Linked DNA regions of Homo sapiens: all the other regions are linked to region 1. Evidence: fine-mapped expression QTL. A gene starts in region 1. Each other region holds a variant in brackets. All regions are shown on one strand. Distances are from middle to middle.

Region 1 (2,759 bases):
AGTAGCTGGGATTACAAGCGCCCGCCACCACGCCCTGCTAATTTTTGTGTTTTTGGTAGAGACGGGGTTTCACCATGTTGCTTGGGCTGGTGTCGAACTCCTGGAATCAATTGATCCGCCCGCCTCGGCCTCCCAAAGTGCTGGGATTACAGGCGTGAGCCAACGCACCTGGTCAGAAAAAAGACTTTACTTTCTTCCATACCTGCATTCTGAAACTGGGTTAAGATCCTTATCTGACCACCCTTTCCTGTGCTACATTATTATGACTTAAACAGTTCTGCTTTTACCATAAAATCTTACAATGTAGCATAAAAATCCCCAAATGATTAATGAACTGCTGAGACCTCTGACTCGTTGGAGACAATTTTATTACGAATCATATCTCCAAACTTCCATTCAGTGCTTCAAAATAAGTACTCATTTAATTATCATGACTTCACCAGACAGTCACACTGCCCACAATGATGTTTACAAAAGCACTTGTCACTCCCTTTGGATGTAGCAATGCAGAAAAAAGAGTCTGTTTCCATACTCTTCGTGTGTTTATAACTCTGTAACAAGTGGCAGAGTTCAAGTGTCACTTGAGATGAAACAGCAAAGCACTTCAAGTTTACGTCCCACCATCTTTCATCCTAAGCGAATCCCGAATTTGCTCGGTTTCATTTCAGCAGTAATTCCCACTCAGTACCTGAGACAGGGTTCCAATTCAGCCCTGCGGGAAGAGACTGCAGGATTCTAGTAAGGGACTATAGGATTCTATTTTGGCCACTGCGAGGTTAACAGGCTCCAATATTAAGCAACTCCAGTATCGGTTACTGCAACACCAGAGCAGATCGGAAATAAATGTGCCCCCAAACGCACGCCAGCAGCCAGGAATTAGCAATAGCTAACACGAGATGCTGCAGCAGGGGTATCATTTACTTAGCACTTGTTCAGTTATGCCTAACCTCACAACAACCTTATGGTGTATGTATTATTATTTCCATTTAACACATCAGGATATTTTGGCCCAAGGCCCCAGGACTGGTCAGCAGCGGCGTTGGGATTCGAAAACATGTCCATAACCTAATAACCCTGGGTCCACGCCTCTGAAATACACTTCTGCGCAAAAAGGCACCTGAGGGTCGGGAAGTTCCGGAGGTGTCCGCATAGACGCGGGGCGCGAGTACGCCGTCTCTCCACAGAAACGCCCCTCAGGAACGGGACCCAAAGCGACAGTGACCCGGGACGCCCGGCAGCGTCTCTGCCGCCCAGGGGCCGGGGGGCGCCACTCACCTTGGAGAGCCCAGGGCGGGCCGCAACCAAGCCAGACGCCCCCACCGGCCGGTAGGCGGTTATCCTCCAAGCTGGCAGGAAGCGCGGTGCAACCACAAGAGTCGCCAGCGCCGCAGGTAGCGGCAAGCTAGAACGCACCGCCAGCACGCCCGGGGGCACCGCAGCCGGCGCCGCGACCCAGCCGCCCCTCAGCCGCGCCGCATCCGGGTCCCGGCCGCCGCACTCACCTGCCTGGCGTTCCGCCGCCGCCGCCTGCTACTATTCCAAGTGCGCAGTCAGCAGCCCAGGCCGCCGCAACCGCTCCACTCCGGCGCCCCCATCCCTGCCTCTCTCGATCACCTCCCGCCTGCCCCGCGCAGCACTACACTCGCCCCCTCCCCACTGCCATGGCCCGCTCCGCCGCAGCGCCGCACAGGCCGACAGAGCACGCGCGCGCCGCCGCCGAACCCGCGCCCGTGTGCGCGCGCGCCAGCCTCTCAGGCCTGCATCCCAGCAGCCCCCGCCCCGCCCTGCGCCGCCCTCGGGCCAATCCCGGGCCCCGCGGTGGCGGCGGCGGCGGCGGCGGCAGTTGGGCTGGCAGGGTGTGGGGAGAGGCCTCACTGCCGATTCCTCTACCGTTGCCAGCCCGGCTGCGACGCTGCTGCACGGCCTTTCCTAACTCTCTTTGCGACTCCCAGAGGACTGCGGAATAGGGAATCCCCGGCAAGTCGCCTTCAGGAGAGACCCATCACCCGCTGCGGCCTCCATAACCTCCTCCCGAGAGATTCCGCTCTTCCTAGGTTCCTTGCTGGCCTTTTCTTCCCAGCCCTTCTCCCTGTTCTGCGACATGGACTGACTCCTAAATTCTTGGACGCAGCACTTATTTTTTTCCCGATACCCGTCTCCGTCTTTCACTCCCTTTGTGAGGATAGGGCGCTAGCTCGGCTGCCTCACAGCTGGCCCTTCAGTCCCTACACTGTGAATGGTTGTTTCTAGGGAAAAGTCCAGGCTTTCAAGCCCAAGATTCTTGTTCTTTGTTCAATTTTGCAGTAACAACACCTAACATTTGTCTGCAGAGCCTTAAACTTTACCCCTTTTTGCCTACCTTGTTTCCTGTTACCTTTGACCCCAACCGCGAAAAATCACAGTCCTCTTTCTAGTGGGACACTTAAATTTTACTTACTGAAAACCAACATTTTAACTCACTCCAAAGCTAGTATATTCTAACGTAATGCTCCTATATTACCCTGGACAAATAGTTGAGTAGTCAGGGATAAAATCTAGAAGTACAACATAATAAAAAGCAAACGTGACAAATCAATTAAGTGACAAACCAATAGTTTATTTGAGAAATGATCCTAGTTTTTTTATTTTTTATTTATTTACTTATTTTGAATGAGAGTTTCGCTACTGTTGCCCAGGCTGGAGTGCAATGGCGCGATCTTGGCTCACCGCAACTCTGCGTCCCCCGGTCAAGCGATTCTCCTGCCTCAGCCTTCCTGAGG
Region 2 (2,759 bases), 23 kb before region 1:
GTGAGCTGCACATAGTGCCTTCCTTCCAAAAAGTATAATATGAAAAGGAGAGGGAAAGAGTAACTTTATAGCAGGGAAACCTAACAAACTACCTCAGCCAGCTGATCAAGGACAACATCAACAACGATAATTCATTTTTTAGTATATACTTTTGATATCATGTCAGAAAAATGGCACTTTACTTCCGTGGTCTTCCTCGCAAAAACCCGTAATTCCAGTCTAATCATTAAAAAAAAAAAAATCAGAAAAACTCAATTGAAAGACATTATGCAAAACAACTGACCAGTATTCCTCAGAACTGTCATGGTCATCAAAAACAAGAAATGTTGGGCCGGGCATGGTGGCTCACGCCTGTAATCCCAGCACTTTGGGAGGCCAAGGTGGATGGATCACGAGGTCAGGAGATTGAGACCATCCTGGCTAACACCGTGAAACCCCAGCTCTACTAAAAACACAAAAAAAATTAGCTGGGCATGGTGGCAGGCGCCTGTAGTCCCAGCTACTCGGGAGGCTGAGGCAGGAGAATGGCATGAACCCGGGAAGCGGAGCTTGCAGTGAGCCGAGATCGTGCCACTGCACTCCAGCCTAGGCGACAGAGCGAGACTCCGTCTCAAAAAATAAATAAATAAATAAATGTCGGCCGGGCGCGGTGGCTCACACCTATAATCCCAGTACTCTTGGGAGGCCGAGATGGGCAGATCACAAGGTCAGGCGTTTGACACCAGCCTGGTCAACGTAGCGAAATTCTGTTCCTACTAAAAATACAAAAATAAGCTGGGCATGGTGGTGCGTGCCTGTAATCCCAGTTACTCAGGAGGCTGAGGCAGGAGACTCGCTTGAACCTGGGAGGCGAGGGTTGCAGTGAGCAGAGGTTGCAGTGAGCCGAGATTGCACCACTACACTACAGCCTGGGTGACAGAGCAAGACTCTGCCAAAAAAAAAAAAAAAAAAAAAAAAAAGTCTAAGACACTGTCATGGCACCACTAAGGACAACTAAAAAATATTATTGTGGGAAAAAAATACATAATTGGTAAAATTGGAATATAAACTATATATTAGGTAACAATACCAATGTTAAGTTTTCTAAATGTGGTAACTATACTATTGATATGCAAGAAAATTAC[C/CT]TTTTTTTTTTTTTGGCAGTGTCTCACTTTGATGCCTAGGCTGGAGTGCAATGGCGCAATCTCGGCTCACTGCAACCTCCGCCTCCCAGGTTCAAGCGATTCTCCTGCCTCAGCCTCCTGAGTAGCTGAGATTACAGGCGCCCGCGACCACACCTGGCTAATTTTTGTATTTTTAGTAGAGACGGGGTCTCACCGTGTTAGCCAGGATGGTCTTGATCTCCTGACCTCATGATCCGCCCGCCTCGGCCTCCCGAAGTGCTGGGATTACAGGTGTGAGCCACTGCACCCGGCCCTGATATGCAAGAAAATTTCTACAGATAAACATAACAATTTAGATGGATCTTCAGAGAATTATGCTGACTGAAAAAAAAAACAGGCTAGGCATGGTGGCTTATGCCTGTAATCCCAGCACTTTGGGAGACCAAGGCAGGAAGATCACTGGAGCCCAGGAGTTCAAGACCAGCCTGGGAACTGTGGCAAAACCTTGTCTCTACAAAAATTTTAAAAAATTAGCTGGGTGTAGTGGCACATGCCTGTAATTCTCAGCTACTTGGGAAGCTGAGGCCAGAGGATTGCTTGAGCTCAAGAGTTTGAGGCTGCAGTGAGTTATGATCGTACCACTATGCTAAAGCCTGGGCAACAGGGCAAGACCGTATCTCTAAAAAAAGAAAAAAGCCAAACTCCTAGATGATTTCATTTATATAACATTCTCGAAACGACAAAATCATAAAAAACAGATTAGTGGTTGCCAGAGGTTAGAAAGGGTGGGAGGGAGGTGACTGGGGCTATAAAAAGGTAGAATGAGAGGTTTTTTTTTTTTTGGGGGGACAGAGTCTCGCTGTCACCCAGGCTGGAGTGCAAATGGTGCGATCTTGGCTCACTGCAACCTCCGCCTCCTGGGTTCAAGCGATTCTCCTGCCTCAGCCTCCCAAGTAGCTGGGACTACAGGCACGCGCCACCACTCCTGGCTAATTTTTGTATTTTTAGTAGAGATGGGGTTTCACCACATTGGTCAAACTGGTCTTGAACTCCTGATCTCGTGATCCGCCCACCTCAGCCTTCCAAAGTGTTGGGATTACAGGCATGAGCCACTGTGCCTGGCTTTTTTTTTTTTGAGACGAAGTCTCACTCTGTCACCCAGCCTGGAGTGCAATGGTATGACCTCAGCTGACTGCAACCCCTGACTCCCGGGTTCAAGCGATTCTCCTGCCTCAGCCTCCCAAGTAGCTGGGATTATAGTCATGTGCCACCACGCCCAGCTAATTTTTTGTATTTTTAGAAGAGATGGGGTTTCACCATGTTGGCCGGGCTGGTCTCGAACTCCTTACATCAGGTGATCCACCCACCTCAGCCTCCCAAAGTGCTGGGATTACAGGTGTAAGCCACCACACCCAGCCAGAATGAGAGACTCTTGTAATGGAACTATTGTGACTTTACGGTGGTGGTGGTCACTCAAATCTATATATATAATAAAACTGAATGACCTAAATACACACTGAAATAAGTGAATGTAAAACTGGTGAAATGTGAGTAAGATATATGAACTATAGCCAAGTCAGTTTCGTGGCTGTGGTATCTTTCCATAGTTATGCAAGATGTTACCACTGGAGTATTATGGGTAAAGGATAATGGATT
Region 3 (2,759 bases), 49 kb before region 1:
CAGAGAGAGACTCTGTATCAAAAAACAAAAAAAGGCTCTCCCTCTCCCTCCCCCTCCCCCTCTCCCTCTCGTCTCCGTCTCCGTCTCCCACTTTGCACGGTCTCCCTCTGATGCCGAGCGGAGGCTGGACTGTACTACCACCATCTCGGCTCACTGCAACCTCCCTGCCTGATTCTCCTGCCTCAGCCTGAGGAGTGCCTGGGATTGCAGGCGCGCGCCGCCACGCCTGACTGGTTTTTGTATTTTTTGGTGGAGACGGGGTTTCGCCCTGTTGGCTGGGCTGGTCTCCAGCTCCTGACCGCGAGTGATCTGCCCGCATGGGCCTCCCGAGGTGCTGGGATTGCAGACGGAGTCTCGCTCACTCAGTGCTCAATCTTGCCCAGGCTGGAATGCAGTGGCGTGATCTCAGCTCGCTATAACCTCCACCTCCCAGCCGCCTGCCTTGGCCTCCCAAAGTGCTGAGATTGCAGCCTCTGCCCGGCCGCCACCCCGTCTGGGAAGTGAGGAGCGTCTCCCTGGCCACCCATGGTCTGGGATGTGAGGAGCCCCTCTGCCCGGCCGCCACCCCGTCTGGGAGGTGAGGAGCGTCTCTGCCCGGCCACCCCGTCTGAGAAGTGAGGAGCCCCTCCACCCGGCAGCCGCCCCGTCTGGGAAGTGAGGAGCCCCTCCGCCCCGCAGCCGCCCCGTCTGGGAAGTGAAGAGCATCTCTGCCCAGCAGCCGCCCTGTCCGGGAGGTGGGGGGCAGCCCCCGCTCGGCCAGCCGCCCCGTCCGGGAGGGAGATGGGGGGCAGCCCCCGCCCGGTCAGCCGCCCCGTCCGGGAGGGAGGTGGGGGGCAGCCCCCGCCCGGCCAGCCGCCCTGTCCCGGAGGGAGGCGGGGGGAAGCTCCCGCCCGGCAGCCGCCCCCTCCAGGAGGTGGGGGGGCGCCTCTGCCAGGCCGCCGCCCTGTCTGGGAGGTGTACCCAACAGCTCATTGAGAACGGGCCATGATGACGATGGCAGTTTTGTCGAATAGAAAAGGGGGAAATGTGGGGAAAAGAAAGAGATCAGATTGTTACTGTGTCTCTGTAGAAAGAAGTAGACATAGGAGACTCCATTTTGTTCTGTACTAAGAAAAATTCTTCTGCCTTGGGATGCTGTTAATCTATAACCTTACCCCCAACCCCATGCTCTCTGAAACATGTGCTGTGTCCACTCAGGGTTAAATGGATTAAGGACGGTGTAAGATGTGCTTTGTTAAACAGATGCTTGAAGGCAGCATGCTCCTTAAGAGTCATCACCACTCCCTAATCTCAAGTACCCAGGGACGCAAACGCTGC[G/A]GAAGGAAGCAGGCAGGGCCCTCTGCCTAGGAAAACCAGAGACCCTTGTTCACATGTTTATCTGCTGACCTTCCCTCCACTATTGTCCTATGACCCTGCCAAATCCCCCGCTCCGAGAAACACCCAAGAATGATCAATAAATACTTAAAAAAAAAAAAAAAAGAAAATGCTTATCTGAGGATATGACATTCACATGAATGTTTAAGGTGAAAGTTTTCATAGTAACAAAAAACTAGGCATAATCCTAATGTACATTAATAGATCAATAAATAATAGTTTACAATAGGAAAAATGAATAAAATACAGCTACACACATCACCATTAATGAACCTTACCAACAATGTTAAAAGAAACAAAAGAATATATATAGCATGACCACATTTACTGGAGTATATGAAGCAAGACTCCATCTCAAATAAAATAAAATAAAAGTAAAATAAAATCAGGCTGGAGCTTCCTCATTTTCCCCAGTTCTCTTCACAGTGTTAAAGAAAACAGTCTCTCCTGGGTGCTCAGAAGCAGCAGAAAGAGAGCTCCAAAGGTTGCTTTAAAAATGTCTCCTCACAAAAATTACAGATTTGTAGTCATGAGCTATATATAATAATCTCCATTCACTAATAATCCTTAAAACTTTGAATAAAAAGTTTAGGTCCTTTTTGAAAATAATGTGATTTTCTATTTAATTTTTTTTTTAAGATGGAGTCTTGTTCTTGTCACCCAGGCTGGAGTATAATGACGCGATCTTGGCTCGCTGCAATCTCTGCCTCCCAGGTTCAAGCCTCAGCCTCCTGAGTAGCTGGGATTACAGGCACGCACTACCATGCCCAGCTAATTTTTTGGATTTTTAGTAGAGATGGGGTTTCACCATGTTGGCCAGGCTGGTCTCGAACTCCTCACCTCAGGTCATCCACCCACCTCGGCCTCCCAAAGTGCTGGGATTACAGGCATGAGCCACCGTGCCCAGCCTGTATTTAAATTTTAAATACTATAAGTTTTATAAAATTATACTTAAAATGTACTATACTATGCATAAAACTGGTAATCCTCCACATAAAACTATTTAATAACATGTGACTATTTAACATGGTTTAAAAAACAGTATTGAGACCAACAAGGCAGCCATTTATATTACCCTTTATGTACTACTTCCTCTATCATGTGGCAGTCAAAAGGCTAAGTGAAATGCTTGCAGCAAAGAAAACAGTTTTGAAAGGTCATGCTATGCAGACAGCCAGAATTTCTTTCACAATATCCTTACTGTCTATGGCAAACTGCATGACAATCTGACCACAGTTATTTTCTGTGTAAAAGTAAAAAGCACACCACATTATCAAAGGACCAGAAACAGTAAGCACTCAACAATATCATCTTTATGAACATTTTTTCTAACTGCGTAAACATCCATACATATTAATGAAAAAGAACCCCGAGGCAAAGACAAT

Which allele goes with the higher level. Positions count from the first base shown, and alleles are read on the strand shown. Sizes are in standard deviations (SD) of each study's normalised expression. Not every link is listed here.
In carriers of allele CT in region 2, the expression in monocytes of the gene that starts at base 1,736 in region 1 tends to be higher than with C alone (large effect, 0.82 SD a copy in Quach 2016).

Evidence for each region. PIP is the estimated chance that this variant, and not a neighbour inherited with it, causes the effect. A credible set is the group of variants that fine-mapping cannot tell apart.
Region 2: its variant is the best candidate, but not a certain one, in a credible set for the expression of PIK3CB in monocytes (Quach 2016, PIP 0.72).
Region 3: its variant is the best candidate, but not a certain one, in a credible set for the expression of PIK3CB in whole blood (INTERVAL, PIP 0.85).

The regions. Positions count from the first base shown.
Region 1 is chr3:138,833,193-138,835,951 of GRCh38, forward strand. It overlaps PIK3CB (phosphatidylinositol-4,5-bisphosphate 3-kinase catalytic subunit beta), which reads right to left and starts at 1,736. Exons shown (of 24, transcript NM_006219.3): 1 at 1,503-1,736. RefSeq lists a silencer at 1,233-1,972.
Region 2 is chr3:138,810,308-138,813,066 of GRCh38, forward strand. The region is part of intron 1 of PIK3CB (phosphatidylinositol-4,5-bisphosphate 3-kinase catalytic subunit beta); the gene reads right to left. Among named protein-coding and RNA genes, the nearest start is that of PIK3CB, 23 kb to the right of the region's middle. The variant C/CT (reference allele first, on the strand shown) is at 1,125.
Region 3 is chr3:138,784,363-138,787,121 of GRCh38, forward strand. All of the region lies in intron 2 of PIK3CB (phosphatidylinositol-4,5-bisphosphate 3-kinase catalytic subunit beta), which reads right to left. Among named protein-coding and RNA genes, the nearest start is that of PIK3CB, 49 kb to the right of the region's middle. The variant G/A (reference allele first, on the strand shown) is at 1,318.